Linked DNA regions of Homo sapiens: region 2 is linked to region 1. A link means that fine-mapping ties the variant in region 1 to the expression of a gene that starts in the linked region. Tissue or cell type: whole blood. Region 1 holds a variant in brackets; the other region holds the start of a gene. All regions are shown on one strand. Distances are from middle to middle.

Region 1 (4,239 bases):
TCTAATGCGCTCAGCAGTACAGGTTTTTGCAGTTCCAGGGACTTCTGTATCTCCTGCTCATTTCACCCTTAAATTCCCACCCACTTTGCAAATGGGGAAACTGTGATCACGTTCATCAAATTAAATGAGCCTGGACAAAATGATGTTTTCATCAAGGCAGGTGCCTTTTCTTCAGGCACTTTCCTTAACTCCCTGCCGCCCAGAAGACAGATCTGTCACACTGGATGCAGGGGCAAGCCCCCTCAGGGCTCTGGCAGCCTGCAGCTCATACCGCTGCCCTCCCGCCCTGTTCTGCACTTGCACTCAGTCCTGCCGAGTCCCCCCGAGAAGTGCCAGCCCTGCCGCCTGCCTCCCTCCTGCTCCGAAGGTGCCAGGGCCTGTGCCCTTCTCCAAACAGTCCCACATGGACTCTTCCTCCAGTTGCTCATTCCTTCCCATGGTACCAGCTTTTCCTTCCAAGCACCCCAACGTTGCATCCCCAGCCCAGGCCAGCTTACCCATGGCCAGCTGCCCCTGCCATCTGGTGAGGCATATAGACAGCAGCACCTTCCCCCACCCCTGTTCACCACACCCACCCAGGGAACCTGATGTCTGGTCAGGGCAACTCTTACTGACAATGTCTTCCAAACCCAGCCCCTCCCCTTTCATCCCACCGCCACCTCCAGCGCAGGCCGGGCCTCTTTACCTTGCGCCCAGTGGATCTCTTCCGGCAGCATCCAGCCTCCTCTTCGGAAAATGCTGCCCTGACGTCAGCACTCTCCTGCTCCCCTGGCCTCATACTCCCTTCTCCTCCTTCCAGGCCTCTGCCTCGCACTGACACCCCAACCCCACATTTCCTCCAGGGCCTGGGTCTTTCCCAAAGGCTTTCCTGACATTCCAGCCCATAGCACTCTCTCCCTCCTGGGAGCCTCCTAGAGCTGCTCTGTCCAATACAGGAGCACCAGCCACCTGCAGCTATTTAAATTTTAATTTTACTTCGTTAAAATGAAATAAAATTTACAATTTCATTTCTCAGCTGCACCAGTCCCATTTCCAGTGCTGGGCAGCCTCGTGCAGCTAGAGGCTCCCTTTTTGGACAGCACAGCCCTAGAGCTCGCCTGTCACCACAGGAGGTCCTGTGGGACAGTTGTGGTAAGAGGCCCTGCCTGTGGCACAGAGTTGAGAGGCACTCGGGGACCCGTGCTCTCACATGGAGGATTCTCCACTGTGTGGGTGTCTGGGCTCCCACCTAAACAAGGAACCCCAAGTGAAGGGCCACTCAGCCAGTAACGTAAGTGTTTGATGTACATTTAAGGATTCCACGCAGCTCCTCGATGAGAAGAAGGGACTGGCCTGGGATCACACAGGCGAGGCAGAGGCAGAGAAAACCCAAGCCCCTGACCCACAACCAAGCGCCTTTTCCGGATATGTTCCCTTCCACTGATGAGCAATGTCTGCTGTGGGAACGGCATCTGTGCTAGCAATCCATTTTTAATGACTCTAAAATTATTTTAATTGTTCTAGGGCCCGTGGAGTTAGGAGAGCACCCATCTGGCTGGGCAGCCACGAGTCCCTGGAGACCCCACCTTTGCACATGGTCCCTCCCTGTGAGGGGACGAGGCAGGAGCTGGGCAGACTCACATAAGTGTCATGGTCGTACAGCTCCACCACAATGCTGGGCGGTTGCTCAGCAACTGTGGCCGGCTCGCCAAAGATCTCGATCTCGTAGAAGATGAGCGTCTGGTCCCAGGTGGGGTTAAGGGTGTTCTTCACCACCACCGTCTTCTGGCTCTGGTGCAGGAAGGAGAC[G/A]ATGGCATAGGGATCTGCATGGGCCGGAGAGGGGGAGGGGAGACAGGACACAGCAGGGACCCTGAGAGATGTCTTCTCCAGAGCCATGTGGGGCCACAAAGCTGGAGCAGGGTTGTGGCTGCCACTCTGGAGCAACAACATTCATGCTGGGATGCATCTTCCCTATGGGGCTCTCCTAGCCCCACCATGAGGCCAGCTGGAGGCCACGGTGGGGACATGGAGCCTGGGTCCTGGCAAATGGGCACAAGATCCAGAGAGCATCCCCTTTTCTGCCGCTTCCTGAGCTGTGGCTGCTGGAAGCAGGGTCCAGCTGGGGGAAGTGAGTGCCTGTATGGTATATTCATCTATTCATTCATTCATCCAGCAAGCATGTATTGAGTGCCTTCTTTATGCCAGGCTAGGTGCTAGGTGCTAGGGGCTGAGAATACAATTTGAACTAAATATAAAATATCCACACAAGCTAACGTAAAATTACAATTTGGGTCAGAGCCTTGAAGAATAGACATAAAATGCAGTGAAATGTGTTAGGGAGGGATCTGGCTTCCTTGAGGAAGGGGAAGCAGAGCAGAGCTGCTGGTGTCTGTGAGCTCTGGGATGCCACCAGACTGACGTGGCTAGGTCTGCGTTTCAGCAAGCTCACTCTGGCTGCCACATGGAGAACAGACTGGAGGGAGCATGAGGTCTAGGGAGACCAGTTCTGAGGTCACTGCAGTGGTCCAGGGAGGAATAATGGTGGCTTAGATGGGTGTGGGGTGCTAAAGGGAAGTGCACAGACTCAGCAGCTATTTAGCAGTAGGGGTGTGCGAGAAACCCAAAGGCCCCTGCAGCTCCCTGCTACCCCCAAACTCCTTTCCAGCCTGCCAGCCTTGGCCACGCCACCCTGGGACCCAGCCACAACTCATTCCCTCTACCTTGTCCCAAAGGCAAGTTGGTGTCACTAGAGCAGACTCTAGGGCAGTGGTTCTGAAAATGTGAGCATGCTGCAGGATCATCTGGAAGGTTCATTCAGGCTGCTGGGTGCTGCCCCCAGAGACTCGGATTCAGCAGGGCCGGGGTGGGCTGGAGAATGTGCATTTCTAACAAGTTCCTAAAAGTGATGCTCATGCTGCCTTCTGGGACCACATTTTGGAAACCAATGCAGGAGAGGGTCTGAGTGCATATAACTTGGGAGAGGAACACAGGGCTTGGAGAAGGGGACTCCCTTCAGCTTCTCCTAATGGGATGTCACCTTGAGGGCTGAACCCAGTGCCTAACCATGCACTCAATACCCTTGGCACCCTACTCCATCCTGCAATGGCCTGTGCCCTCTGAGCCCCACAGTCCAGCCCTAGCACTGCCATTCACTCCCCTTGTGACCTCAAGAGGGCCTCAGTGGCCTCAGAGGTAATGGCCTCTGTGTCGCTGGCCTCAGAAGGATGCAGGTTCAAACACAACCCAGGGGCTGGGATGGGGAGACAGGGCTTCCGCACAAAGGGGAGAAGAGCAAGACAGGCTCCCTGGCCACAAGAAGACCAAATGGGACACCATGGCCACTGCACAGGTGGCAGAGAAAGGGGCTGGCAAGGAGTGACCAGGAAAGAGGTGGGAAGGTTGGGGTGGGCAATGGCAGGAAACCCATCAAGGGATGGAGAGAGCAGGATCCAAGGTTGTACCTGTTGCCCAAAGAGCTGATTTTAAGAGCAGGAGGTATCTAAGTTAAGGGGCGGACTCAGCCATGGCCACCCACTGGCTGAGCAATGCTGGGTCTGGTTAATAGAAGGCAGCCACCAGCCTGGGATCAGCCTGACAGCCATCAGGCACAAATCATGGAGGACTTCCTGCAGGAAAATGGTTTTGAGCCTGATTCTGTGGAACAGAAGAGGGCAATGGGAGGCCCTTGGCAGGGGAAGGAGCCAGAGAGAACTGCCCACCCCTACCTGGTGGGAGCCTCTCTGGCATGGGGCTCTCCTTTCCATGCACTGGACCTGGCAGGGCCGGCCCTGAGCCCTTTCCGTCCTGCCCCTGGCAGGGCCCAGAGGCATCTGTGCATTTAATGAAACCGTCTGGCTGTGATACCATCAGCTCCAAGCTCGGCAGAGAACCTCTCCAGGTTCCAGTAAGGAAAGGAGGGCGCATTCCGATAAATAAAACCATATTAGAGAGCCAGCGAAAAAGCCCCTTTTGTTCCCGCCCCGCCCCGTGCTTCCCTACGCTTTATTTTTATAAGCATGCGGGCCCCAGACCGACCGCGTTTACACAAAGATCACAATTGCACATTGTAGCGGCTGTGCACGCTGTATTGGTGTTGGCAGCACCCCCCACGCTGGCCCCCGAGCAGGCTGACTCCTTCCAGCAGCCCCATCAGCCCAGGCAATGAGCTCAGCGCTGGGGGGAGAACGGGGAGGGGGTGGCTTTCAAACAAAAATCACCCAGACCTACACACGTGCCCCACCCGCCCATGGGAGGAAAAAA
Region 2 (4,239 bases), 130 kb after region 1:
TTTGGTCATCTTCCCGACTCAAGGGCAATACCCACTCCAAGCGCTGGTAGCTCCCTGCCATGACCACTGACCTGAACACATTTAACTTCCCTGGGTTTCAATTTCCTTATTTGCAGAATGGAGACATTGGTAGCCACCACAGGACTGTTACAGGACAAGGGAAAGAGCTGTGAGCAGACCCAAACGAGTGTTAGAGCATCCAGAGCCCTATGCTAATGTGTGCCCTGCCCAGTGTCCTTAGGGAATTTCTTTTCCAGCCAATGGTGACACCGCAATTTCTGCATAGCAAAGCCTTAGGCAGCATCAGGTGGACACTGGAGAAGGAAAGACTTTGTCTTGAAGTTGCTCTTGCATAGTGAACTCCCAGGCATGTCACCAATCAATGAAAATAGTGAAATTTTCTTAAACGTTTCAAATCACATCTTTCAAAAGAGGAATACATATAACTTGTCCCACAGCAAAGAATAAAAGCTACACATAAATCTCCCTTTGCCAAATCATGTCTTTCATCTATCATTATCTTGGGGGTGCTTGGAGATATGATTCAGATCATGGGTCAGACTGAAAAGAGTTCCCTTGGTGCCTGCACTGAAGGAGGCTTATGAAAACACCAGCTACTCTTCCTTCTTCATTTGACTATCTTTTCTGATACGTAGATTTTTATTATTATTATTATCGATTCCACAAAGCTACAGGGTATGGCTCCTGGCTAAGTGGAAACCCTCTTTCCTCTCCTGATTTATCTTTCTCTGCAGAACTGGGGTCCTGACTCACAGCTATTGTTCCTTCTCTTAATTTTGACAGATCCTTCCTCTTCCCTTTCCCCTCCTGAGACACCCGCTCCAGTGGGAATCTGCCTTGGAGGGGTTGGGGGAGGGGGTTCAGGACGCCTGGTGAGAAGAGGAGTGTGTGTGTGATTTCTCTGCTGCCCCACACAGAAATACCTGTATGTATTCTAAGCACTACATGTAGGGACTTAGCTTCTTGAATTTAGAGAAAATATCCTTGACATTCCTCAAAACTCCTTGTGTCAAGGCCATTTCCATCCTATTCTGTTCCTTTTCCTACTGATTAAGACGGGGCAGATTCAATACAGCCAATGTTGGATAAAGATGGGTGAATGAATGAATGAATGAATGAAAAAAGACACAACTTTCAAAGCACATCATCTACACGCCCCGTTTTTCAGAGGCCCTGATTCCTCTCTACCTTCTGCACCCATCTTCCAACTTACCCTTATCCCCACTACCCAGTAAAAGCTCGGACTTTATTTCCTCTGGGTGTCAGTCTTAGAAAAGTGATAACCGCTGACCTACGGCACTTTCGCTTTTCCAATTTTTCAAAGCCCTGTGGCATTTATTGTGCTCTGCTTATTCCTCATCGCCCCCCTGCAGAAGTCGGGGCTGGGATTTCCGTCCCTGCTGACAAAGGGAGAAACTGTGGCCTGGACTAGGGTTAGCTCCGGAGCAGGGGCTTCAGACCCGCCAGTGAGCGCCGAGAGTCGGGTAGCACCCGAGCATGGGCGCGGCAGCCACGGGGCTCTCACCTCGGAAAGTCAGGCTTGCGACAGGGTCGCTGCGCCGGTCCTTCTTCGCACTGGGGAGGTTGCTGGCCCTCACCAGCAGGCAGCACAGCATGGCTGGGCAGCCCCGGCGGCACACAGGCGCGCAGTCAGGGCGGGAGCGGGAGCACCGGGCCCGAGCACCCACCCAGCAAGCGCCCGGCTCCCAGGCAGCCGCGCCAAGAGAGCTGTCGCCTTCGCTGCTCCTCCGCGGAGAAGTGACCAATGCCTGGGAGAGGCTGCAGGGAGGACACCGGACACCCGCTGGGCGGACCCTCCCCCTCCGGCCCCTACCCAGATCCGCCCTGCCCGCGGCGGGCGGGGAGGGACAGGGGTCAGACGGGCGCCTGTGGGGGTGCTGGTCCCTAGCTCCGCGGGTCCCAGCTCCCGGCCAGGAACGAGGCGCCGCTGACGCGGGCGCGCAGCTCGGCCTCCGAGAGCGCACAAGGCGCCGTGGGGCCTGCTCCGCGGGGGCCTCCGGTGACCAAGGCTCCACACCAGCCAGGGATCCCGGGCCCGGTGCGCACCGGTGCCGACTTGGCAGCCGCCCTGTGCGCTCGACGAAAGGGTGAGAAGGAGGCAGGAGTGCAGGCGGAAGGAGTGGGCAATCAGCGGCGGGGACGAGAGTGTGTCTTCGGGGAAACCAAGTCTGAGTGAGCGCTGAAGGGGGAGTGTGCGGAGCGTGCCGTGCACCCCGAGCCCCCCGCCTCATTGCCTCTCGCCTCTCTCCACCTGCCCCATGATCTGCGCCAGGGAGCCGGTCCTCTCCCGTCCGCAGGCTGTCTAGGTGGCCGTTCTGGTTTGCTGGGACCCCCGGGTCGGGAGAGACTCCGAGGTTCGAGTCCCCACCAACCCTCCTCGGAGCCTTCTCCGCAGCGGTGTCGAGTCACTCATCTCTGGAGGCAGAGATCTGTATTCAAATCATACTGCGTTCCCTGGAGAACTAGGGTCCAGCTGCGGCCCATTCTGTCCCCTGCAAGTCCCCCATCCCCAACAATCTCTACACTCCCTAGTCTCCACAGTGGAAAGCTGTTCAAGGTGTAAGCCATGAACGGTGACAGTCGTTTCGCTTATTATGTCTGGTTCCTTTCCAGCGTATGAACTTCTTGACACAGGGGCCCTGGCTTCGCACTTCTATCCCCCAGCACTCCAGCACCTAGCCCCTGTCAGGGCACTGTCCGTCTTCCCACCGCCCAAGTCCTCACTAACCAACCTGCTCACTCAGCCTAAACGCACTGCTGCGCAAAATCTCAACTCCCTTTCCCCTCTCTTATTTTGAGGGATACAGCATTCTCACAGGGCTAAGCCATAACCCTGGCGAATCCAACTCCGCCTCCTCCACACCTGCCCCCAACCAGTGCTGTGTTGGAGAGTAACACAGCCGGCCTGAGTGGTGCCTTTTGTAGTCATGACCCTTAACTCAAGCGAGCCCTCACTGCTGGGGGCAATCATACTATATGTCTTGTCTCCCTGTCTCCCGGATGCCCCTAGGACACCCCATCGCCCAACCTCACTCTCAGTTTGCTTCCTCTTTACGGAGCAGAGAACTTCTTCAGGTCCCCAGTCTCCTTCTAACGCCCGCCCTCGGCATCTGTGCCCAAATCCTGTGAGTTCTCTCCTGTTCCTACAAATGAATCACCCGTACTCCCCACTGGTAACAACTGGACACTTGGGCATAGACCCCATCCCCTCTCGCCCATTCAGTGGTGAGCCTGCAGTGATTCTCTCACTCTCTTGCCTTACCAAGTTCCCCTGTTTACCGGATCATCCCATCGGCACACAAGCATGATGTTATTGCTCTCAAGAAAGCACACCGTTGACCCCACATCCCCTTCAGCTACTGGTCATTTCTCCCTTTTCACAACAATGCCCTTTGAAGGAGCTCTCCATACTTTCTGTCTCCAATCTCCCTCCTCCATTCTCTCTTGAACCCACCCAGTGACACCTTCAACCCCACCAGGTCACCAAAACTGCAAATCCCCCTCCCACTCTCCTTCAAAATATGTCCAAAATCCCACCATATCTCACCATCTCCATTGTAACTGCCCCCAGTGGAAGCCTGTCATCCCTTGCCTGAGTCATTTAATCGACTCCATGGACTCCCAATGCGTCTCCTGCTCTGCCCTTGTCCCCATGGTCTATCCTCAATTCAATTCTCATGACCTGGTTCTACTCAAAGTCTTCCGTTGGCTCCCATCTCACTCAGTGCAAAACTCAAAGGCCTTACGTGACCTTGAAAGCCCTGGCTGACCTCGCTGACCTCCTCTCCAGCCACTCTCCCCTTACGTGACCTTGAAAGCCCTGGCTGACCTCTCTGACCTCCCCAGGACCCATGCTAGCCTTCCAGCTGTTCCCCAGACAGGCCAGACCAGCGCCTCCCCAGGGTCTCTGTCAGCTGTTCCCTCTGGCTGGCATGTCTTCCTTTCCTTCAGATATCAACTCCAGTGAGACCAACCCGGCCACACAACTGAACACCACAACTTTCCCTCTTTCATCTCCCTTTCAGGCTTCTTCTCTAGCACCAATCACTGTATAGCACATGTGTCTTAATTGTTTTCTGTCTTCCCCATCAGAATGTCTGCTCCAAGGAGCCAGGGGTTTTTGTCTGTTTTGTCCACTGCTGTTTCCTCAGTGCCTGAAACAGCACCTGGTGCAAAGCATGGTCTCCATAAATTCTT

The links. PIP is the estimated chance that this variant, and not a neighbour inherited with it, causes the effect.
Region 2: it holds the start of DYSF, and the variant in region 1 is fine-mapped to the expression of DYSF in whole blood (TOPMed, PIP above 0.99).

The regions. Positions count from the first base shown.
Region 1 is chr2:71,596,127-71,600,365 of GRCh38, reverse strand. It overlaps DYSF (dysferlin), which reads right to left. Exons shown (of 56, transcript NM_001130987.2): 33 at 1,621-1,802. Among named protein-coding and RNA genes, the nearest start is that of DYSF, 130 kb to the right of the region's middle. RefSeq lists enhancers at 1,344-1,843, 1,844-2,345. The variant G/A (reference allele first, on the strand shown) is at 1,789.
Region 2 is chr2:71,464,241-71,468,479 of GRCh38, reverse strand. It overlaps DYSF (dysferlin), which reads right to left and starts at 1,781. Exons shown (of 56, transcript NM_001130987.2): 1 at 1,547-1,781. The coding sequence starts at 1,637.